Linked DNA regions of Homo sapiens: regions 2, 3, 4, 5 and 6 are each reported to be linked to region 1. The links are microRNA targets in miRTarBase. Many come from high-throughput screens and were not tested one by one. Region 1 holds a microRNA gene; each other region holds the end of a gene's coding sequence.
What was found. The annotated mature microRNA hsa-miR-1343-3p reads CUCCUGGGGCCCGCACUCUCGC and lies in region 1 at 1,532-1,553, shown strand. An mRNA with a match to its seed (bases 2 to 7 or 8) in the 3' UTR can be bound and repressed. Matches are read on the target gene's strand: a 7mer-m8 pairs with bases 2 to 8, a 7mer-A1 pairs with bases 2 to 7 and ends in A, and an 8mer does both.

Region 2: miRTarBase lists ANGPTL3 as a target of hsa-miR-1343-3p. The part of its 3' UTR that is shown has no 7-base or 8-base seed match.
Region 3: miRTarBase lists ASB8 as a target of hsa-miR-1343-3p. Seed matches in the 3' UTR shown: 7mer-m8 at 3,228-3,234.
Region 4: miRTarBase lists ABHD2 as a target of hsa-miR-1343-3p. Seed matches in the 3' UTR shown: 7mer-m8 at 1,344-1,350.
Region 5: the mRNA of SSBP2 is a reported target of hsa-miR-1343-3p. Seed matches in the 3' UTR shown: 7mer-m8 at 178-184.
Region 6: miRTarBase lists SCRG1 as a target of hsa-miR-1343-3p. Seed matches in the 3' UTR shown: 7mer-m8 at 2,765-2,771.

The regions. Positions count from the first base shown.
Region 1 is chr11:34,940,357-34,944,493 of GRCh38, forward strand. MIR1343 (microRNA 1343) reads left to right here and starts at 1,481; the gene lies at 1,481-1,564. All of the region lies in intron 2 of PDHX (pyruvate dehydrogenase complex component X), which reads left to right.
Region 2 is chr1:62,604,095-62,608,094 of GRCh38, reverse strand. It overlaps ANGPTL3 (angiopoietin like 3), which reads right to left. Exons shown (of 7, transcript NM_014495.4): 6 at 3,860-4,000; 7 at 1,782-3,462. The coding sequence ends at 3,278. All of the region lies in intron 14 of DOCK7 (dedicator of cytokinesis 7), which reads left to right. Among named protein-coding and RNA genes, the nearest start is that of ANGPTL3, 8.6 kb to the right of the region's middle.
Region 3 is chr12:48,145,701-48,149,700 of GRCh38, forward strand. It overlaps ASB8 (ankyrin repeat and SOCS box containing 8), which reads right to left. Exons shown (of 4, transcript NM_024095.5): 4 at 2,089-4,000. The coding sequence ends at 3,666. It overlaps PFKM (phosphofructokinase, muscle), which reads left to right. Exons shown (of 23, transcript NM_000289.6): 23 at 1-704. The coding sequence ends at 8. Among named protein-coding and RNA genes, the nearest start is that of ASB8, 9.8 kb to the right of the region's middle.
Region 4 is chr15:89,195,011-89,199,147 of GRCh38, reverse strand. It overlaps ABHD2 (abhydrolase domain containing 2, acylglycerol lipase), which reads right to left. Exons shown (of 11, transcript NM_152924.5): 11 at 1-3,921. The coding sequence ends at 3,725. It also overlaps the pseudogene LOC124903574. Among named protein-coding and RNA genes, the nearest start is that of RLBP1, 24 kb to the left of the region's middle. RefSeq lists a silencer at 1,216-1,510 and enhancers at 3,276-3,776, 3,777-4,137.
Region 5 is chr5:81,416,774-81,420,910 of GRCh38, forward strand. SSBP2 (single stranded DNA binding protein 2) reads right to left here. Exons shown (of 17, transcript NM_001256732.3): 17 at 1-3,760. The coding sequence ends at 3,731. Among named protein-coding and RNA genes, the nearest start is that of ACOT12, 25 kb to the left of the region's middle.
Region 6 is chr4:173,384,858-173,388,994 of GRCh38, reverse strand. SCRG1 (stimulator of chondrogenesis 1) reads left to right here. Exons shown (of 3, transcript NM_007281.4): 3 at 600-4,137. The coding sequence ends at 654. Among named protein-coding and RNA genes, the nearest start is that of SCRG1, 12 kb to the left of the region's middle.

The sequences.
Region 1 (4,137 bases):
CCATTTTGAAGAAAGCCTTATCCTATATCACTAGATGCCACTAGAGAGTTATATGGGTCTCTGGATTCTACTATAGAAGACACTTTGGTTCCGTTATTTCTGGCAATATGTATATGTTTGTGGTGCTAAAATGGAAAATTTTGAAAAGTCCATTTCACAAATAGCTTCCTTTTTTTGGTGTACTATGGTTTTCACAGCTTTATTGAGGTATAATTTACATACCATAACATTTACCTATTTTAAGTATTCAATGATTTTTAATAAATATATGGAGTTGTGCAGCCATCACCACAATCCAGTTTTAGAACACATTTCTGTCACCCCAAAAAAGATCCCTGCTGCCTGATTGCAGTCATTTTTTTCCTCCCATCTCTATCCCTAGACAATCCGGATCTGTTTTTTGTCTCTAAAGTTTTGCCTTTTGTCTATGTTTCATATAAATAGAAGCATGTAATGTTTGGTCTTTTGTGACTAGATTTTTTCAGATTTAGCATGATTAAGGTTCATCCATGTTGTAGCATTTATCAGCTGTTCATTCCTTTTGTTACTAAATTATATTCCATCATTATGCGTTTTTACATTTATTGCTAAATCTTTGTATTATATCAGAATTTTTAAATTAGTGAATGGAATTATAGATTATAGTTTTATTCAATAGAAGTTTCTGTGGTGATGGAAATGTTCTGTGTTAAACTGTCGAATACAGTAGCTACTAGACTTTAAGAAGCCAGAGGGATGTGTGGGTGGTTGACCTTGTCTAACTGGGCCCTTCTCAAACTCTCCTACTCATGCCTTCACCCCATAGGGCAGGACCTCAACTGGCCTAGCAACCAGGTTGCCTCAGGTCTTTGGCCATGCAAATATTATCCTTCTTTGTGTGTGTGTGAAGTGAAAAGGGATGACAAACACTGACTAGGGGTCCCTCCTCTACATTCCCATTCTGCTGTAGGTACTAATTGGATGGGATTGTCATTGCCTGCTTGTTGTACTGTTCTTCAATCAGATTAGGAACTTCTTGAAGCAGTTCTGTCTTATTTTATTACTATTTTTATCATAGTGTCGCACACAGTGTCATTCACATGGGCAGCTAGTAAATACTTGTAGAGTCAACAATTGAATTATTTTTGTTTCTGATTATTGTTATCATTATGGTTCAACATAGCACTAAGAAGAGGAATTTTTCTTTAATGTTCATGTTAATCTGATAACTTGGTCTTACAGATAAAAACTAGCTCTCTTCCACCACCACCACCACACACATCTTTTACGTAAAGACTTTTATTCTTAATTTTTGGCAGAACAAAATTATTTTGTGAAAGCCTCAGGACTTATTCTATTAATAAAATAAACATCACCATTAACTGTGTTTGACCAAGGCTATGCTTAATATCTAGAATTTAAAAAGAGAAAGGGAAGCCTCCGTATACTTCAGTCCTCAGCTCTGGCAGCTGCCCATCGGACAAAGGAACAGGACGATGATGCTGGCGTCGGTGCTGGGGAGCGGCCCCCGGGTGGGCCTCTGCTCTGGCCCCTCCTGGGGCCCGCACTCTCGCTCTGGGCCCGCTCCTCTTCCGCCACTGCCATGGACCACGAGAAGATGGTGCAGGAACACTCCAGGGCTGCCATCTCTTTCTTCAATCAGTCAGCTATGAACCTGACAGCTGAGAAGCCATCTGTCATCTCACGCTGTCCAGGACCCTCTATCCTAGCTGCTGAGTCTTTTCCACTCTTCTCCACTTTAAACTCTTTGTGGACAGAACCTTCTCTTTTTGTTGTTTTCATACCCAGTGCTTAGTACAGTGCCTTATACATTAATGTTTGTTGGATGATCTGGTAGAAATGACAGAATATGGAATAAATGTGTCCTGATTCTGGTAGAAATGACAGAATATGGAAAAAAACCGTATCTTGATTCAGGTAGACATGACAGAATATGGAATAAATGTGTCTTGATTCAAAATGGTTGTATAGCTAACATTTTATTTTTACCTAGAGATGTTGTAAAGTGTTACATAAAGATGTATGTGAAGCATTAACACTTCCAGCCCCATGACTTAAAAAATATATATCTATACATTTAAAATTTTCCTGAGAGTCAGAGAGATTAAGTAACTTGGTCAAGATCACTAGTAACTGTCAGAGCTTGGAATCAAACTCATATTTGAATTAGGAGAGGTTCCTTGTAACTACTCTGCCAAGGAGTCTTTCTAAGTTATAGCACTAAATTTTTGATCACAGCTGAAACTCAGTAGATTTGAAATATTCATGGCTCATTATTTGCTCTCAGAGTTTTCTTTTGGCATTTACATGATGTTTGATTATTGAAAGATAGAACTTTGGTTTTGTGATGAGTTAGGGGTAATGCTTCCATACGTAATATTACTATGTTTTTAAAACTTCCCTGTGATTTATTGGTAAAGTGTTCTGTGTTTCTTTTCCCTACCTCCCTCTCTTTTGTCCTCTCCTTTTTTCCTTCTCTCTCCTCCTGCTTTTCTCTTCTACCCTCTCCCTTGGCATTCTCATCTAGCTAACATATATGTCTGTGTTATGTGAATAGATATAGTTTTTTAAAAAAGAAAAAAAGGCTATCTTTTTAAATATCAGAAGCATGCTACAAATCAAATGTTAGAAGCAAAAGAAATGTAAAAGATAATTTGATGTATACCTTATGAGGAAATAAGGATTCGTGAAGTTATCATGTTTTTTTCTAAAGCATTTTAATCTAAAATTCATTGGGTATGGTGCATTGGCCATGAAACCTGAGGAATGGGGATGGGAATATAAAACATTTAAGTGTCCTGTCCGTATTGTGAAGAAGCTCATAGTCTAGTAAATAGAGGAAATCACAATTTAAAAAAGTAATTAGCAGTAATATAACATTTTATATGCAATTTGTGATTTTTAAATAAATTAGACCTACTATAGGAATCTGGAATATGAACAAAATTATGTAGGTCAAGTTACTCAGAGAAAGTTATATAGCTGAAGTCGAATCTGTAGTTCTTAAAGTGTGGTTGGAATTTGAATACTGATGAACACAAATGATGATATAGCATCATTTTGTTTTTCTGTGGCTAGAGTCTGTTTTCTAGGCATCTAAGAGGTATTTAATTGCTGGGTTTACTAGTTCTATAGTTTTTCCCGTGATTATAGCAGAAATCTTTGAGGGTGTGCTTTTTTTCCCTTTTGAAGTGCAATCTGTTTTAACCACTAAAACATTTAAAGAAGTATGTAAGATGATATAATCTGACACTGTAGCTTTCTCTATGACATACAAAGGTCATTTTTGGTCTCTTCCTGCATATCTTACCAGCCTAATCTCTCGTCACTTCTCTCGCATACTATTTGCCAGTTTCTCTGAAGTTTCCTGTTCTCTCTGCCTCCAGGGCTATAAGTGTATTACCTTCTACCTGGATCACTGCCTGTTTACAGATTGTCTCCTCCTCACCTCTTCAGGCTCAGAATAGGTGGTCATTGTATTCTAGGAAGCCTTTTCTCACCTTACAAAAACTGAATTAGATGCCCCTCCTGAACATTCCCAAAGCATCCTGACCTCACCTTATCCTGCTGTATTTTCCAGTTTACTTGTCAATGGATATTAAGCAAGCTTCTTGAGGTCAGGAATCTTAAATCTTTGCTGTTATTACTGTCCACTGCTGTATCCTCAGTGCCTACATATGTATATATATTTTATATGTAATATATAAATATATAATACAAATATGTGTGTGTGTGTGTATATATATATAAAATATATTTATATAATTATTATTATTTTTTAGACAGAGTTTTTGCTCTTGTTGCCCAGGCTGGAGTGAAATGGCATGATCTTGACTCACTGCAACCCCCTTCTCCCAGGTTCAAGTGATTCTTCTGCCTCAACCTCCCGAGTAGCTGGGACCACAGGTGCCTGCCACCTCTCCTGGCTAATTTTTGTATTTTTAGTAGGGACGGGGTTTCACAATGTTGGCCAGGCTGGTCTTGAACCCCTGGCCTCAGGTGATCCACCCACCTCGGCCTCCCAAAGTGATGGGATTACAGGTGTGAGCCTACACGCCTGGCCACCCCAATACATTTTTAATAAATGTTTGTTGACTAGGGACATCTCTTTGGAGTTAGACAAAGGACCTTTTAGGT
Region 2 (4,000 bases), not on the chromosome of region 1:
GAAGATTTTTTTTGAGACAGAGTCTCACTCTGTTGCCCAGGCTAGAATGCAGTGTTAGGATCATGGTTCGCTGCAGGCTTGACTTCCCAGGCTCCAGCGATTCTCCTGCCTCAGCCTCCCAAGTAGTTGGGATTACAGGCACCTGCCACCACACCCAGCTAATTTTTGTATTTTTTGTAGAGGTGGAGTTTTGCCGTGTTGCACAGGCTGATCTTGGACTCCTGGGTTCAAGCAGTACTCCCGCCCCGGCCTCCCAAAATACTTGGATTACAGGTGTGAGCCACTGCAGGCATGAAGATAGATTTATAAAGTATAAAACACAATTCATATGCAATTTTAAAGTAAAATTCTAAGATTTAAGCTAAGATCCCAATAAGATTCTGAAAGAAATTTGTGCATATAGTAAGTTATTTTATCCTGTAACTCCAGACAATAAAAGGATTTGTTTTCATTATCCTCTGCTGTTACACTTCTTCAGTAGATGAGCTTGAAAGACACAGGTCCAGGCAGTATGCAGCCATTACAAATTCCTTTTCGGAAGATTGACAGGGAGAGGGACGTAAAATTAGGAGGAAAGAAGAGACTACTTATATAATCTAGCACTGAAGTTAAAGACAGTCTTTGGGGAAGAAAGCTTATAAGATTAAGAGACGTTTCAAGAGAAGATTGTATTGAACTTGGTGGCTTATGATACAAAAGAGGTAGTTTACAAAGTTGAGTGAAAAGCCAGAGATGTCTTCCGGGTTCCAGGCTTCTGTGACTGGGAACATGCTGGTCATATTAATGGATATAAAGAAGTGAGGAAGATGGTGTGAAAGAGTATAAAGGAGGGAAAGGTGGGTAGAAAGGGATAGCAGTAGCAGTAAGGGGCTGGGGAATTTGTTATTTATTTTTTTTTGAGTCAGTCTTGTTCTGTCACCCAGTGCATTGGTGTGATCTCAGCTCACTGCAACCTCCGCCTCCTGGGTTCAAGCGATTCTCCTGTCTCAGCCTCTTGAGTAGCTGGGACTGTAGGCACATGCCACCACGCCTGGCTAATTTTTGTATTTTAGGTAGAGACGGGGTTTCACCATATTGGTCAGGCTGGTCAGACTCCTGACCTCAGGTGATCCACCTGCCTCAGCCTCCCAAAGTCCTGGGATTACAGGTGTGAGCCACCGTGCCTGGCCTTTTATTTTTGGTATGTTGAATTTGAGTGAAGTATAGGGTATTGAAGGGAGAAATGGCAAATAGGCAATGTAAGAAGGGGAACTGGAAAGAGACTTGGGATGAATATGTAGATTTTGGAACTTTATTCATGGTAAATAAAGGAGTCCGTGAGAGCAGATAGAATGTCTGAGGGTCAGTGTAGAAAAGATGATTGAAGGTTGTCCATTGGCCCACAGTACTAAATATGAGAAAGGAATAGGGTTATAAAGATGGATTCAGATAAGGGATAATCCATGGAGAGTATAGTATTGTGAAAGCAAAATGAAGGTCAAGTTTGAAAAAAAGATATTCTTATTATTAAGTAGTAGAGAGATAAAAGGGAAGGTAGTCTGAGAGATCAAAGGGGATTAGACTTAGATTAGACAACTGTGAGTAGTGATGGAATTTGAGCACTTTAAGCAAAGTAGTTAGGACAGGAGACAGTCGTGTGAACCATAAAGAGCTCCTTTCTCTTCTTCTACCAGAAGTATCTTTCTGGTAGAAAAAAGCTTTATATGGGGAAAACGTCTAATTTACTACTCCTGAAAGGAACAAAATGAAACATGTCCTATGAGAGTTTTTTTTTTTTTTAAGGAAACCAAATAGAGGAAGCAACTCATATATTAAATAATGAATTATTTTGCATTTGAAATTGTCCAATTTTGGGGGAAGAGAGGAGCCATTTTGGTATTCTGGCCCTAAAAAAATCAGCGTTAATTTCGACAGCTTAGTCTGTGGTCCTGAAAATTATAGATTATTTTTACCTTTATTATTTTGTACTTTTCTGGAACAAAATATTTACTTAGGATTCACATAGATCATACATATCTTTTATATATGTGACATATAAAAATATATATGACATGTATATTGGATAATTTGAAATACATAATGCTAAGTATTGACAAAGGTAGGTCACCATATAACTTGGGCACTATATCCTTTAACAAATGGGTTTAATTTAAAATTTCTTACTGGCAGTTTTAAAAAATCATATTTAAAAATAAATTCTGACAAGTGATACTGTGGTAAAAAATTTGTATCTAATCTTTAGGGATTTAGGGATTTAGGGATCTGTTGTGATGTCGATAAACATGCAAGAATAATTTAAATTTCTATAATTTAGGGACTGGGTCTTTGTTTATTGAATTTTAAACATATATACATGCTTGTCAGGCTGTTTAAACGTTCAGTAACTTGTTACGAGGTTTATTTCTACTTGAAAACCTACACGAATGTATTAGAATCACAGCATATTTAGGGGAAATATAAACTTTAACTCGATGCCACAAATATGTTCATTCTTACTGTAATCTGACAAGATTCCTTTACAATTATTTGTTTTCATAGTATTAAGTGTTAAAATATATAAAATGTATACAGTATATATTTTAACAAATAAGGTATAGTGATACCTCATGTTAAAGTCAATGTGACTTAGTAGTCATCTCCATTTGTTTAAAGACAGCGAACTTATTTTAATACAGTATTTAATTCTGCTTCATTAGGTTTCATAAATAAATCATATCAAACATTTACTCCAAATTATTTTGTAGCAAAATGAAGCATCAGTTTAAAAATTTGTATTACAGATTTTTACACATACTCTGTGCTGACGATTTTTAGTTTTGAAATTAATACTACAACATTTAAGAACTGTACAATTACCAGTCCTCTGTATTTAGTCAAGTTTAGAGTTTTAACAAGAGTACTAGTTTTTTAAACTGGGAAAGTTGTGATATTAGCTCATATGATGCCTTTTAAAATAAAAGTCTCTAAATTTTTTATTTAGAAAAGTTATTTAATAAGTTCACCTATTGATTATAATCTAGATTGTGACCATCTAAAATTGATTCCCACATCACAAAATTTAAAACAAATAGTATTATAAGAATTTTGATTGAGAAATGTAAACGGTATTCTTTAAGGTTATGTGATTGTATGTTTAATCTTAAATAGACAGTGACTTTAAGATAAAAAAAATCTATTTCTCAAGCTTTCTCTTAAGGATTTAATACCAGATTATTAGACCACATTAACTTGGAATGAGGTTAATGTTTAAATTATTGCCTTTTAAATTTGCCTCAGTTCATTCAAAGCTTTCTGAATCTGTTGGATGGATCAACATTTTGGTTGATTTTATAGAGTATAACCTTCCATTTTGAGACTTCCAAGATAATCCTCTTCTCCTCTCTGGCTTAGATTTTGCTCTTGGTTTGTTATATTTACCATTTAGGTTGTTTTCTCCACACTCATCATGCCACCACCAGCCTCCTAAAGGAGATAGATATGCAATTTAATGGGTACAGACTCGTATGTAGTTACTGTTACTGTATTTCCCCGTAAGTTTATCTTCCTTTCTTATAAATATTACAGTGTTTTAGATGCATGTATCCCAGTTTTAAATAATCTGTATAAGTCCCAATTTTAAATAATCTGTATAAATAATCTATACACTACCAAAAAATAGAAAATCTGAGGAAGATTAGAGGTAAAATACCTGATTGAACTAGAATGAACACTTTCATTATAGTTAAGAGGTTTTCGTCTAGAGAGAAAACGCTTATTTGGGATTCGGATTTTTAAAAGTTGTCATTGCAGATAATAGCTAATAATGTGGGAAGATACTTTGAAGATATGAAAATAAAGTATTGGTATCAGAAAAAGATACCTGAATAACCCTCTGGACAGTTGAAGTGTCCTTTTGCTTTGTGATCCCAAGTAGAAAACACCAAATCTTTGTTTTCCGGGATTGCATTGGGGACATTGCCAGTAATCGCAACTAGATGTAGCGTATAGTTGGTTTCGTGAT
Region 3 (4,000 bases), not on the chromosome of region 1:
CCGTCTAAACCTCTCTGGAGTGAGGGGAATAGATTACCTGATCATGGTCAGCTCACACCCTAATAAGTCCACATCTTCTCAGTGTTTTAGCTGTTTTTTTCATTAGGTTTCCTTTTATTCTGTACCTTGCAGCCATGACCAGTTCTGGCCAGGAGCTGGAGGAGCAGGCAGTGGGTGGGAGCTCCTTTTAGGTAGAATTTAACATGACTTCTGCCCCAGCTTTATCTGTCACACAAGGCTGGGCACCTCTAGTGCTACTGCTAGATATCACTTACTCAGTTAGAATTTTCCTAAAAATAAGCTTTATTTATTTCTTTGTGATAACAAAGAGTCTTGGTTCCTCTACTACTTTTACTACAGTGACAAATTGTAACTACACTAATAAATGCCAACTGGTCACTGTGCTTTTGCTTCTCCTGTTATCATCTTCCTAAGTGGAATGTAATACTGTCAGCCCCATGTATCAGACACTTGTCTGATGAAGCAGTAAAGACGTTAAGGGTATCACAGGGGGTGGAGGAAGGGATTATCTCTAGTACACTACTTGCTGGCTGTCTGAAAAATTGTCACTGCCAAACTCTAAAAACAGTTCTAAATAGTGACTGAGAAGGTTTGTTGCTGGAGTCAGGGAATAAGGCAGCCAAATACTCTTTGCACAGTTCTTTAGTGGGAAGAGAAATTAACAATAAATATCAAGCACTGTGGTAGGCATTTCATCATTGAATCCTCATAGTAGCTTTTGGAGGGCAATGGTGACAGCCTGACTTCAGAAAGGAGGACACTGGAGCTCAAGGTGATTGATTACATAATGTCTCCTTCAATATTATTCAAGTAGAACTCAAACTCAGTTCTGACTTCAAACCTCATCCTCATTCCCCATTCCTGCTTCCTTATCATGCCATATCAAATCCCCAGAGCCATAAGGCCTATGAAAACAAAGTGAAAGGGAAGGTTCAGGCATTCATTCAGAACATTTTAAATGCTAATTGCCATTGATTTATAGGTTCTCTGTCTCTTTCCTGTCTTTAATCTTAGAGCTGTTTCCTCAAGAAAATGAAGAGGGAAGGATGGCTCAGGGAAAGTTAATCAGAGGGAAAATGTCACTCTGTAAAGAGTAAAAAATTTAGGATGATGATACGATCTGGGAAAAAAAGGCATAGTGAAGACCACTTAAAAACAAACAAAAAAAACCTATGAAGGTGCATGCTATTTCCCCAGAGCTAAAAAGATAAGTGAAATTGTGTTTGAACTCTTAAGTGGAGGTGAAGCAGAATTTATTAGCCACCAACCACATAAGTGATTATGAAGTAACTGAGAAACAGGTAACATTTTTTCCCACATGGACAAAACTTTCTCTTTCTAGAATATTAAGTATCTATGATGAGAAATGAAGTAGCATCTCAAGCAGTTTATAAATCTACCAGAATATTAGAATCACCTGGGACCTTTGAACGTACTCATGCCCAGGTCTACTTTATTCATTTATTTTTTTGTAGAGATGGGGACTTCAACTCCTGGTCTCAAATGATCCTCCCACCTCGGCCTCCTAAAGTGTGAGGATTACAGGCGTGAGCCACTGTGGCCAGCCCTACTAGGTCTGCTTTGGACCAATTAAATCAATCTCTGGGGGTGGAGCCTGGGCTTTAGTATTTTTAAAAATTTTCCTAGGTGGTTCTAATTAATAACTAGGATTGAGAACCACTGACTAACACAGTGGAATCTCATTCCTGGCTATATTTGAAGCACTGAAGCCCCCAGTCCTACCCCAGAAAATTCCAAAGAATTGGTATGAGGTGAAATCTTGGCACCAGTGTTTTTAAAAAGCTTCCTTAGTGATTTTATGTGCAGCTGGAGTTGAGAACATAAAAGCAGTAATTCCAAATTTGGGGTGGGAGAAGGTATAAAGGAAGGGGAAGCTCTTCAGATACTCTGCCCAAGCCCTCCTGTTCACTCCAGCAATGCCCAGAATCACTGCTGCTAATGGGAGAAAGGTTGGGATGGAAAGTTACATAGAACAGCCAGGCAGTAAACGAAGAACTTTTTCTAAGGGGGGTTGGAGAAAAGTAGGAAAAGTAGAAATTGCCAAACTTGCTTTTAGAACTATTTATTCTTTTTTTTTAAGTGATGTTTTTTAAACACCAGCATCAATAGGACAGAAGAAGACATCTGTTTTCCAATTAGCTGTGTCAGTAGATTCCATTCATTGTTTGTAGTTCCCAATCAGCTTTAAAAAAAAAAGTTTTTCAAATTTGCATACAAGTCATCTAAAATCAATAACAACTTGATCTAATTTAGAAAAATGAAAGAGTATCGTTCACTAAAGCAGATCTCTTTTGGGTAGATGGACCATCACAAAAGGAGCTCTTACATGCTTTTCCCACTCCCATCCCAAGTCCACCCTCCCACCAATTGTATTGTATAAATCAATAAAAAGCAAAGGTTCCAGAACAACTGAAAGAAAAATAATTCCAAACTAAGCAGAGTGAACTTTCCATTGGGAATGAAGACCCATGGGAAAAGGCAGCCCAGCCCATAACTCCTCCCTGCTGGAACACACACCGTAGGTGTAGGAACTGCCTGGGAATCCCATTAGAACACACTGTTTCTCAGGAAGAGAAAAAGCTGCATTACAAGAAAAGTTCTCAGGACTTTAGGAGTTCTTAGGACTGTTATTTCAGAGCTATTTATTACTGTTATTACAGAGCTCTTGTTATTTCAGAGCTACTGTAGCCCTTGGGCACAACCAACAGAAAGAGGCAAAGACTGCTGTTTCCTTTGATGAGGGGAAAGAGGTCCAGTCCCTTCCAAATGCCCCAGGACATGGCACAGTAGGGATGTCATCCAGCCCAGTTCTGGATCTGCACCATTTGAGGTTATAGTATCTTCATCTTTGGGACACAATTGCTGTTAGCTGAAATTGTGATTTTCTTAAGTTTTTTCACAGATCAATTAAAATGGTTTTTTTTTTTTTTTTTTTTTTTTGAGACAGTTTTGCTCTTGTTGTCCAGGCTGGAGTGCAATGGCGCGATCTTGGCTCACTGCAACCTCTGCCTCACAGGTTCAAGCGATTCTTCTGTCTCAGCCTCCTGAGTAGCTGGGATTACAGGCGCATGCCACCATGCCCAGCTAATTTTTGTATTTTTAGTAGAGACGGGGTTTCATCATATTGGTCAGGCTGGGCTCGAACTCCTGACCTCAGGTGATCCACCTGCCTCAGCCTCCCAAAGTCCTGGGATTACAGACGTGAGCCACCATGGCTGGCCTAAAATGCTTTCTAGAAGGGATTCTTCTGGACCGTTAACCACGTCCCCAAAGGAAAACCACACACACATTATTTAAGTACTTTCCATCTTCCTAGAGAAATTTAGTTACACTGTTGACTCCTTCCCTAAAGGGGAGGATTGAGGGAGACCTCTTCTTTTGCAAAATGCAATATAAAAAGCCAGGTAAGCAATAAACAGAAAACAAAAGTGAGGGATTTTTTTTGTTGGGTTGTTTGGTTTGGGAAGGGGAGGTGCTATGGAGGTTATTGTTGTGACATGTTGCTTCGAAATCTATAAACCACACAACAGGAACAACTGTTTTTCTGTTTTCTGTGACAAGGAGTACTGCAGGGACAACCTCACCCAGAGCTGCCTGCACGATGGTGCAAACATCTTCTCCGGCTATTCTAAAAGTAACAGGTATTCCTTCAAAGAAGCTGGCAGTGGAAGGCCCTTCACTGCATCGGGGAGATACTGGAGTCCCAGGCTACGGCGCACGGCATAGCGAGCGAGTGTTTTTAGAGTTCCTGGAGCTGAGCACAGAACAGTCAGTTTTTCACATAGCTGCGGGTCTCTGGCCACCTCTCGTGGCATGGTGCCATTTTTCCTCAATTCAAAGTGTCCAACAGCTCTGTGGAGGAGCTCAAAGCAAGAGTCCTCTTTCTCTGTTCCAAGTCCCCTGACTAGCAGAGCCACCAGGCGGGAGATGGGTGTCTGGCCTATTAGGTTGATGACTC
Region 4 (4,137 bases), not on the chromosome of region 1:
GAGCTCTCATTCAGATGCCGGGCATATAAGCTCAGCTACCCAGAAAGTTCAGCTTTAATGAAGACTGTAGTTTTAGAATGAAAGCCTGAGCAGGAAGGATTTCTGCCCTGGGAATTCTCAATGCTCTGCCTGAGTCACACTGGAGGATGGAGATAGGCTCCTCATTCCAGCGGCCAGCAGCTGCCACAGTCACAAGACCACCCTCCAAACAGCAAGGGTCTTACGATGACAACGGGGACTCTGAAGAGAAGCCAGTCAAAGACACAGGGCTTTGGACAAGATCAAGGGTCTTCACCAGGAAAGCTTAATGCAGAAGCCCCCTCCCTCCAAGTCCCCTCAGCGTGAGCCTTGAGCCTTGACACAGCTGTTTCCACCTGCAAGGGCTGGAGAGGCCAAGTTCACGCAGATGTTCAGCAATGTTCAAGCAAATGATGTGTAAATAGATGAAGTGGTCTTAGAGATGGTCTAAGAGGAGGGAACAGGCTCAGAGAGGTGAGGTGATTTGCCCACGATCCAATGTGAATTAGAGACCATTAGGACACGAACTCAGGTATATTTCCACTCTTACGGTGAATCATAAGGTTCCCAGTAAGTGTAAAATGCTGCAGAGAGGTTAAAAGAATATTGTAACCAACAGCTTTCTGCTTTCATTCTGCTCTGGAATCATTTGTGTAAACTCACAGCAGGAAAAGATAACAGTTTTCTTCAAGTCTGTTAAACTCACTTCTAACATAAAAACATTAAAGAAACTTGACACCATTTTTTGAGTCAGTTAATCCTAATTTGACTGGAATCAGTTACTTGTAAGTGTCTTCAAATTGCTTATGAGACACGGAGTGCTACAGGAGAGATGTGGGTGCTTCTCCCCATTGGTTTTTAACATATTATTCCTGCAATGGAATTGTCCAGATTGATGCAATTTATAGCCTCAATTTGATTCTAAAATATATTCAAATACTCTTTAAAAATTCAGCCTTGTTTTAGCCCAAATAGAACCTTACTAGCAAGAGGGGGATTCATATACTCATCAGAAATGAATGACTTTGGGAAGAAAGGCAAGGACACCTGGAGGAAGGAAAAAAGATGACCTATCTATAAACTGCCACTCCCTCATTTATCAGGCAAGTTTGCAGCTCTGTGAATTCAATGCCTCTGTGCTCTCATTCAGGGACAAACAAGAATTTTCCTGTAAGACAGCCACAGTCACATTCTCATTTCCATGCCTAAGAGCCTGAAGCTTGAACAAAGGGCTTCAGTTAGTTTCATGTGAGCCAAAATGGAATGTGAGTGCCATTCAGAGCCACACACTAAAAAGATTTCAGCTGGGACACTGGCTCCCACAGTCCTGGGGGAGCAAATTCCGGTTGTGTGGCAACAAAGGCTATGCTGCCAGCCCTGCCTGTCCTCCACAGGGGCCACCAGGACTGCCGTGCAGACCAGGCTCCACCCTCCCCCACACCGGTTTGTGTGACAACAGGGCTGTCTTTTCTCTTCCTGAATTTCTGAATGGAGCTGGTACATGGGCCAGCCACTATTTTGTCAGAACAGGTTAAGGGGTGTGGCCTCAGGCATATGAAAGGAGCCTCTCGCTCTTCTGGGGTGGTGATTCAGTCCTAGGAAGTTATTGCTTGGTTTACCTATTCTCATAAAAAGTCTTGATAAATGAAGGTAGTAGTAGCAGAAATATGACTATGAATGTTCTAGATCACAGCTGTAGTTGGGTGAAGGGAAAAGTAACAGAGGAGAGGGGCTAACTTCCAAACTGAGAGGGTAAAGTGCCAGTCTGTGCTAAAAGAACGTGAAAAGGAAACCTATTAGAGAAATAATACACTGGGGGGAAAGTCATAATGATAGAGGCTGGTGAGTGCCAGAAATTATACCAAAGCGAAGTTGAGACCACAGAAATCTCAGTCTCTGAGATAAGGGCTGCTTTTGATGTCATTCGGATGATTTGGTGATTGTCAGAAAACAACTTCTTCAGGTTACAGACCTGGACCCATGCCCACGGGTCCCGTCACAGTCACTTGGACCCGTGCCCAAACCACACCCACCTGTGGCCCTGAGGGTTGGCACTCAGGCGCCCAGGTGGCTCCTTTGATCCCTGAAACATCCATGCAGACCCACTACTTATATTCCAGTCTGTCCTGGAGTCAAAGGAGATGAAGGAGGAAAAATATCTTTTTAAAGTATCCAGGCAATTTTACTCATAGTTCTGTTTAGTTCCAGATAGCAACAGCTGATTGTTCAAAGTGCAGGGTTTTTGGATATTCAAGTACCACAGGATCGGAGAAAAGGAGTACTTGAAACCTAGAGTTGCGTTTTCACTTGAGAAGACACACTTTGGAAACACCTATCCAACAGACTACAAATATAGGCTATTAAATTAAAAATCTGGTTTCAAAATAATACCCACTTAGGTTGGAAATATCTTTCTCCAAACTCAGATCCAACTTTTGAATTGTTTGGTATCAAAGGCAAAGTTAGAGGGACTTGGGTTTAAAAACTAAAATTACAAGTGAGTGCTTAAAAAAAAAACAACTCAAAACATCTTTTTATCAAATAAGGGACACACACACACAAAAGGCAAACGATGATATCTACATGCTTAGACTGGGAGAGCAGCTCCCAGGCTCCCCTGGAGGGATGTTCTCTCAAACCTCAGTAAACTGAGTTTGTCATTGAACTTTGAACCTGGTAGTGAGCTCAGCAATCTACCTGGTCCAAGTCCCCCATTTTAGAGGTGAAGAAATTGAAGTCCACAGCGACTTTGTCCAGGGTGAAAAGCAGAGCCAGGGCACAGCCCAGATGCTCAGCCCACCCAGAGCCCTTCTGAGACATCACACTGTGGTCACACGACGGCAGCTCCATAGCCGGCCTTGCTGCTCTGGAGACCGTGGGAGCTAGAGGACACCCCTGATTATGAATTTCAATAAAACGAGCTGCAAAGATGTTTCCAATTTAAGGGCGCTGTTGAACAGCATTTCCAAAATTTGCTTGGTGATGAGAATCATCTGGGGCACTTGTGAAAAATTAAAATCCCCAGGCTCCTTCCCAGACCCAGTGAATCAGCCTCTCCGAGGGGAGGGACCTGGGAGGCTGAATTTTTAACAAGTGCCTCACGTAACTCTCAGCAGCAGCAAAGCGTAGGGAAATGGTCTCAGGAGACAGGGCGAAAACTTGGCTTGTGACTCAAAGGAATTTCCTTTGCCGTTTAAGAAGCCACACTCTGGCCTGGGAAGCCTGGGTTCTCAGGCTCCCAAGCGGAGCTGTGTCTTCAGCATTGGCCTGGAAGGGTGAGCTCTTTTTAAGGTCTATGTAAGGACACATACAACCACCACAAAATGACATACATCCTTCACTGTTCTCAGGGAAAAGCCTTTTGGTGGCAAAGCAAAATCGCTATTCAGACACATTTTTAATAGGGAAACTAGATGTACTTGGCTTAAAAGCAACCAGATGCTGAAACTGGACAGAGGGCAAGAACTCTGTCACTTGTCACCATGCCTAACAATGCAATGGAGAAAACCAGTAACTAAGCACAAAAATAGCCTGGAGCTCCCAGGAAGAGCTGCCTACTCCGAGACAGGTGTGCATGGTGGGTGCCCCCTGCTGATGGTGTGAGGTCAGATCCAGGTCACTGAGGGAGATGGGAGACCTGAAACAGGGGGTGAGGGGACGCAGCTTCCAGAGGAGGGCTGCTGGAGCGTGCCAGAGTCCGGAGGCCTCACTCCAGGTCGGCCTCCACCTGCTCCGTGTCAGAGCACTGCAACTTGTTACGCTCCCATTGGCAAATGGCGTTGGCGTACTCCACCACCAGCTTATCCATCCATGTCAGGGGCTCGGGGAACAGCACAGAGCCCTCAAAGAAGCCCAAGTGGCCCCCATGCAGAGGCAGCACAAACATGACGTTCTCTCGTTTCTCTGCAGGGGAAACGCAGCTGAGTGAGTTACTGTTCTCTAGTTTGCTCCAGGACAGGAGGTGCAGAGGTGAGCTGGCTAGGGTAGCCTGGCTGTCCCCGCAGGGTCACCTAAGTGGGCATCCAACCTCTACTCACTCTGCCTTGTTCACCAAAGAGGGGGCAGGCAAGACAGTGGCATCTAGCAGGTTTTAGAGTACAGCTTGGCTTTGGAGCTGAA
Region 5 (4,137 bases), not on the chromosome of region 1:
TTTATTCTGGAGGGAAAGGGCTGTTTTGGGCACTTTTCATGGCTGGGGGAGCAGAATTGATTTACTTGTTAATCTTTTTGGCAATTGAGAAATCTTTTCTATTTTTGAGATGGAGTCTTGCTCTGTCACCCAGGCTGGAGTGCAGTGGCACAATCTCGGCTCACTGCAACCTCCGCCTCCTGGGTTCAAGTGATTCTCCCGCCTCAGCCTCTTGAGTAGCTGGGATTACAGGCAGCCACCACCATACCTGGCTAATTTTTGTATTTTTAGTAGAGATGGGGGGGTTTCACCAGGTTGGCCAGGCTGGTCTTGAACTCCCGACCTCAGGTGATCTGCCCACCTTGGCCTCCCAAGTGCTGGGATTACAGGCATGAGTGCCCAGGCGGCAATTGAGAAATCTTAACTTCGGATTCCTAGCTGTGAACTTCCTCTTTATCAGCAACTGACTCCATACTGGAACATTTTCAAAGGAGTGCTAATAAGATTCACCCATCAAATATGTGTTGTATTACAAGATCAATGACACCCTACAGCCTTTGTTCCCATGGGCAACTTTGCTGTAAGACACGTAGTTAAGAATCATACATACCCTCAGAAAGAATTTGACATGTATTTTCAAATGCAGTGAGTTAGGCAGAATGCAAAGCAGAGTAACAAGATTTTACCTACTGCTTACTTTTTCATTTTACATGTGTATTTAATATGTTCAATGCAGCAAGAATTGCTGATATTATTACTGTGAGATGACGTGTAAAAATAACACTAGGAACAGGTAGTATACATCAAGACCAACACGAATGCATTGATAAAGATGGAAAACACAAGAGAAAAACATTAAATAGTCTTATTACAAGAAAAAAGGATAAGGGTTAAATGATTCAAAATCTAAACAAAAATTAATATACAGATATACTGTCTTCCATTCAGTGCATGAAAGAATTATCTGGATATAAAAATCAAGTATCCTTACATTCTGGGTTTCTTGGATACAATTTTCTCCTCAAAAATAATTTTTCAACTATTTCAGGAAATTTTTAAATCTAAAATAACTCTTTTTAATCTGGGCTCCAAGAAGAAAAAAGAAATAAATACTTATAATCAATTGACTGCTCTGCCTTGAAAAAAAAAACGAATTTTACTTTTAGGTTAGAAATAATGGGGATCATGATGCAATTCATATTCTCGTATTACCCCCAAAATAAGGGTAGATAAAATCATATTCATCATTCTTTGTGATAAGAAATAATACCTTCTCAGAAGGCGAAGAAAAGAATTTCAAGATCGGTAACAATGGAGAAGAGTCAACAAAATATTTGAAAATTCTAGCATTATAAGATTAAGCTTAATAATCAAAGGACTGTCAATTTTTATATGATTGTCATAAAATATGAAAGTCAAAATTCTTCTTGGTAAAGTCAGGTGTCTGGACAAACTATCACCTTCATTCAGGTTACCCTGGCTTGAGGTAAAGACCTTTTCATCTGAATTTGCATGAAAGGTTTCTGCAGCTTGACAGCATGAGGCTGTTCTCCGGTGTGCACTCCTAGGCACCTGAATACTGTGTGTGATTAACTGAGGCTCATTTTATGATAGTTTAAATCTGCAACATAAATTTAATTCAGCTTTTTTTTCTCAACAGTTCTGCCTAGTATCCCTGTTTAGGCACAGGCAAAATCTTTATTTTTACAAGGACTAAATCATTATGAATTTGAGAGAAGTAAGTCATCAGGAACTAGTACATACAGTCATATGTTACTTAATGATAAGTATACATTCTGAGAAATGCATTGTCAGGCAATATTGTCCTTGTCTGAACATCATAGAGTGTACTTACACAAACCTAGATGGTATAGGCTCCTACACACCTAGGCTATATAATATAAACTATTGCTCCTAGGCTACAAACCTGTACAGCATGTTACTGTACTGAATACCAAAGGCAACTGTAATACAATGGTATTTGTGTATCTAAGCATAGAAAAGATATGCTAAAAATATGGTATTATAATCTTATAGGACCACTGCTGTATATGCAGTCTGTGGTTGATTGGAATGTCATTATGAGCTGCATGACTATATCCTGCCAAATTTTCACTTTAGAGACTATAAGCCTAAAGGAAAGAGAAGATTCCTCTTACCTGCAATTAAACAATGCTTTTCAAAGTCTCTAGAGTTTGGATTCATAGTTGGTATTTATCAATGGTTGTTTGTATCACAATTTTAACACAAAGGATCACCCAGTTATCTTTCAGAGTCTAAAATTAAAGTCTTCATATCTTTCTATTGTGATTTTGGTGTATGTATGTATAATTAAGCACAAAATCCCAAAAGATCTGGAAAGTGCCATAGAGCAAGGTGCTTTCCATAAGGGAATTAGATTAAAAAAAATTTACTTATTCTTTTTTGAACAGTCAGTTACACAATGTAGTTTTAGCCTGCTGAAGTCAATGGCTAGATAAAGCAAAGTTACTATCAATGATTTGCTCCTGAATAAAAGCCTTATATTCCAGGAACAGAGCAGAGGCTCCCTGGCCAGTGAGAACCAATACCAGTCAATTCTGCTGGTAGCAAGCAAGATACCTGGATAGAAAAGCAGCATTCCAGAGGCCTCAGGAGTGCTAATAACTCTCTTCTCCCTTGTGCTCAAAGTCTCCTTCTATGTATTTATTTCTAGTGTCTATAAGAATATGCTCACAAAAAGTCTGAATAAAAACCAGATACCATTTCACATTAGTATGTTATTAAAAATTTACCTCTAGTACTCCTGGTGAGAAGTGACAAATTCAAGCAAATGCTTTTGTTATCACTTTTGGGCTTCATCATGTTAAAGAGAAAAGATGTTGCTAAATATATGACAACCCCGGTCACTTTATTGCTATGGTCTAAATGATTTGGGCTATTTAATGATTTCTGTATCATCTAAGACAAACAAATCAAGAACTCCGTTTAAAGCAGTTATTGCAGAAATATACTGTGTGAGGCCCCAGTTAAGCTTTTACTGATTTGAAGTGTTTTTCTCAAATAAAAATTAAAAAAATACTTTTCACTGAAGGTAACTGAGAAATTGTTTGATTCAACATAAAGACGAAGACACATTTTCTTCTATTTTTTGAGACAGTACACTTTGTGATTCACAGGATAACTTGCATCAGACGCAATTTAATGAAAGCTCTCAAATAAGCGATTTTATTCCTATCCATGATTGCAGACATTTACAAAACCATAACATCTGAGTTCACCTTAAAAAATAACTTATATAAAGCAGTGATATACACAGCACAAAATAGTTCAGGGAGGGGGCAGGAGCAACTTGTAATAATTAAAATGTAAACGTGAAAAAAAGGATGGAATAAAAGTCCCTACTTATTTCTACTTAAGATGTCATGTGATAATATTTTACAATGTCCTGTGGGTCAATGTATGTATGTGTATATGTCTGTATAACATACACATATACAGTACATTCTCTTTCCCACACATATACATACACACATAATTATTTGCAGTTCAGTTTAGGGCAATTCTAATATGCCACTCCGTACAGTTGTTTGAATCACATTTGGACCCGCTTTCTTCACAAAAGAGGGGAGAGAGCAGGAAATAAAAAGGTTGGTTTGGTGTGACTGAGATTCCTTTGTTTAACTGTACACTGTGATGAATAATTTTCTTCCGTAGTAGTTCTGTGAAGGGCTGACTCACTGTGGTTTTCATGAGGAGACTTGGTAATGGATCACACGCTCATTGTCATGCTAGGGGAGTACTAGAAGGAAAGAAGAATCCATATTTTAACAACAATTCTTTTAGAGATCACTAAGGTTCTTCTTGGTACAACAGAAACGATGAATTCTAATTTCTTATCATCTTTTATGTGCAAGCTTTTCATCTCATACAACATAAAATAAGAAACTATAAAAAAAGTAAAATGATACAGACTTAACTTAGTACTGAAATTTTAAATATTTCCCCTGGAAAGCATCAAGTCCTATCCTCTCCCTGCACCCAGAGGCTCATCATTACCCAGTCCCTCTGCCTCCCTCCATCCAGACAGATTTATGTTTTGCAGGCACTTGTAAAAACCTTTGGTAAATTTAGTCCAAGGCTGGATCATAACTAAGTAAGTATGAGGTCTAGTCTTTG
Region 6 (4,137 bases), not on the chromosome of region 1:
TTAAGGGATGAGAACAGCAGTGTGGGTATACTTGATTTTGGGAAAATCAAAGAGAAATACTGCTAAGTATATTTCTAATAAGCCATAATTATAATATCACCTTGCATTTGTATATAATTTTGTATTATTCCATGCATTTTTATATATTACTTTATGTGATCTTTTCAACCAGGGAAAGTTAAGTAGCTTTGTAACATTTCTCCTTTCCCCATAAAACCTAGAAATTTATTTAATAAACAAGAAATGTTGAATCTTCTGTTTCCTAACTGCAGATTTAAACTTCATGGCCTATCCTCATATAAGAGACATGAAATTGTATACATGACCATAAAGTTTTGAAATTACCTAATATTTCTTTTTCTTCGTAAATGACAGCATGATATCAATGGCAAATGCGGGGAAAGTAGACAAATCGATTACCTTCTCGGTCTTTGTTGCTTCTGTGGCAAGTCCTCCCACTCATCTCTTTACATTTTAGTCACCTAAAAAGAATAATCATAACTGAAATCCTGGAAATCACTGTCTATTTTTAACCTAGAATAGACTAACTAATATCTTAGCCTTAAGGTGAATTTAATTGATGCTCTATTTTCTTTCAGAGACGTTTTCTTTGGACCAAAGATCTCTTTCGTGATTCCTTGCAACAATCAATGAGAATCTTCATGTATTCTGGAGAACACCATTCCTGATTTCCCACAAACTGCACTACATCAGTATAACTGCATTTCTAGTTTCTATATAGTGCAATAGAGCATAGATTCTATAAATTCTTACTTGTCTAAGACAAGTAAATCTGTGTTAAACAAGTAGTAATAAAAGTTAATTCAATCTAATTTTTCTCTGTGGACATTGTTGGCATTGGTTAAAAATTTTGCCTAGAAAATGTAATCTATGAGGTGTTCATTATACTCAGTTAAAGAGTTCTGTCCCCCAGATGAAGAGCCATAGGCATGGCTCAAGGATTGAAAATACTTTCAGTCCTTAGTTGACAGTTATTAACCACATATTGAAAGAACCAGGTATAAGCTGAGATTCTTGGAAGGGAGCTAGAAATTTTCTAGTAAGAAGGAAAAAGGGACCAGCCTGGGCAACATAGTGAGACCCCCTCTTTACAAAAAAATTAAAAAATTAGCAGGTTGTGGGTGCCCACATCTGTAGTTCTAGTTACTCAAGAGGGTCATTTGAATCTAGAATTTCGAGTCTGCAGTGAGCTATGATTGCACTACTGCACTCTAGCCTGGGTGACAGAGCAAGACCCTGTCTCGAAAAAAAAAAAAAAAAAAAAAAAAGGAAAAGGGAACAATATTTGAGGGTATATTATGTATGCTAATAACTTTAAGTACATTTCAGGCTGGGACTGGTGACTAATGCCTGTAATCCTAGCATTTTGGGAGGCCAAGGCGGGAAGATCACTTGAGTCCAGGAGTTTGAGACCAGCCTGGGCAACATAGTGAGATCCTGTCTTTACAAAAAAAATTTAAAAATTAGCTGCATGGCGGCATGCACCTGTAGTCCCAGCTATTTGGGAGGCTGAGGTAGGAGGATCACTCGAGCCCAGAAATTCAAGGCTGCAGTGAGCTAAGATGATGCCACTGAACTCCACCATGGAACCACAGAGTGAGACTCTGTCTCAAACAAACAAACAAAAACCAAGAACTTTAAGCACATTTCATTTTACTCTCTTAAAAAACAACAACAAAAGCCTTCAAGGTAAATATTCTCAGCCCCATTTTTCAGCTGCTAACTCAAGTTTAAGATATTTGCTAAAAATCAAGGCAGATTTTCAAGAGTTCCAATTCCAAAGCCCATATGCCACACACAGATGTATCCTTAAAACCATGATACATTTCCTAAAGTATCCATTTTTAAGAATAACAAAACACACATTAAAAGAAACATAATGGATGAGAATTTAAAAGTATCATACATTTTAAAAGTAAATAAAACAGGGAACTTCAAAGGTATTTTCTGATTGTTAGAGGAGACAGCTTTGGATTATGCCCCATAACTTAAGAGGTATGTGACTCATATTGCCATCAGAGGTAATGTCAGAAAGTCTTTCATGTTATAAAAATGTATTCAAAGCCTGCTAAGTGCCAGCCATTATTAAGATCTGGGCATACAGTAATGAATAAAATGGACTTATCTTCTTGGAACTTGTGCTCTAACAAAGGTGTGATTGCTATAAACAAGTAATTATTTATAAATGTGAAGCCTGCTACAGAGAAGTATAGGGTGCCATACAAAGTATTGTGGGGAAATGTTTGAGAGACACCATACCACACAGGCAATCTGGGAGATATCATTTTATGAATAAAAGTGACATTATTTCATTAAAATATATCCTTGGAGGTCCCTGATCTGTTTCTGGAGACCACACCCAGAACAGTATCTGGTATCTAATCTGTGTTTAGTAAGTGTTACTGGGCTGAAAGACCACACCCAAAACAGTGTCTGGTATCTAATCTGTGTAAATAAGTGTTACTGGGCTGGACCAAACAATTTTGAGGTAGTCACAATTCAGTGTCTTAAAGTGTATATAAACACGGCTGGGTGCGGTGGCTCACGCCTGTAATCCCAGCACTTTGGGAGGCGGAGGCGGGCTTATCACGAGGTCAGGAGATCAAGACCATCCTGGCTAATACGGTGAAACCTCGTCTCTACTAAAAATACAAAAAAAAAAAAAAAAAAAATTAGCTGGGCGTGGTGGCAGGCGCCTCTAGTCCCAGCTATTTGGGAGGCTGAGGCAGGAGAATGGCGTGAACCCAGGAGGTGGAGCTTGCAGTGAGCTGAGATCGTGCCACTGCACTCCAGCCTGGGCGACAGAGTGAGACTCCGTCCCCCCAAAAAAAAAGTGTATATAAACACAAGTCAGAACATGTTTTCGAACAGTGTAAGCTCCTATAAAATACATGAAGTGAAATTGTAAAATAATATAGATAGGTAGGTAGATGGATAATATTAGTTGTTTTATCAAGATAGCATGTGATTTGATTGGCCTTTCTTTCTTCACTGAATTGACTGGTAATGAAATCAGCCTAACTCAATAATGAAAGTTTCATATCCATTCTGGAACAATGCATAGAATAGGTAAATTTAAAAAAACTATCAGCAAACCAGTTTTATTTTCTACTTGGTAGGAACTCTCCTTGAGGGGGAAAAAGCATTAAAGATCCAGTGTCTCCATTTACAAATGACACATCAGCATAAGGACATATGTGAGACAACAACGGCTTTTTAGTAAACGTTCCCTTACTACTGCAATCAAAGCCTGGTAAGAAAAATTGTATCTAACAAAGCTAAATATTTAATAAATAAAATTTTATAAATTATTCATCATAATGTCTTTCTGAAAATATGAAATTCAGTTATTTCTTTTAGAAATGAATGCATTATACAAGTACACAGCCTTCTTTATATTACAAAATAAATGTAAAAACATACATTCACACAACTTACCTTATATAACTATTTCTCTAACTTGGTCAATGCATTTTTAAAAACAATAGATTTTTTTTTTTTTTTGAAACTGAGTCTCACTCTGTCACCCAGGCCAGAGTACAGTGGCACAATCTTGACTCACTGCAACCTCTGCCTCCCAGGTTCAAGTGATACTTGTGCTTCAACCTCCTGAGTAGCTGGGACTACAGGCACTTGTCACCATGCTCAGCTAATTTTTGTATTTTTTAGTAGAAATGAGGTTTTGCCATGTTGGACAGGCTGGTCTCCAACTCCTGGCCTCAAATGATCTGCCTGCCTTGGCCTCCCAAAGTGTTAGGATTACAGGCATGAGTTTTTCCAATAGATTTTAGTTATAAGACAACTAAGCTTTTATTAAAATTTTATTATTCTTCTAAACACCATCTTGCAGCAACTGAATGAGATAGGTACTGATATTATCCTTGTTCTATGGACAAAAAAGCTAAGGTTTAAAGATATTAAGTAGTTTGTCTAAGTTTACATTATCAGTGAGCAATTGAGCCAGATTTTGAATATGGCCAGTCTTACACTAGCATCTAGAGTCTTAACCACTATGTTGTTTAACAGCATTACCTAATGCATTATTTCCTTTACAGAAAGGCAAACTTTTACATGGATAGGACACACAATTGTACATTTCAGATAGCTCATATATGC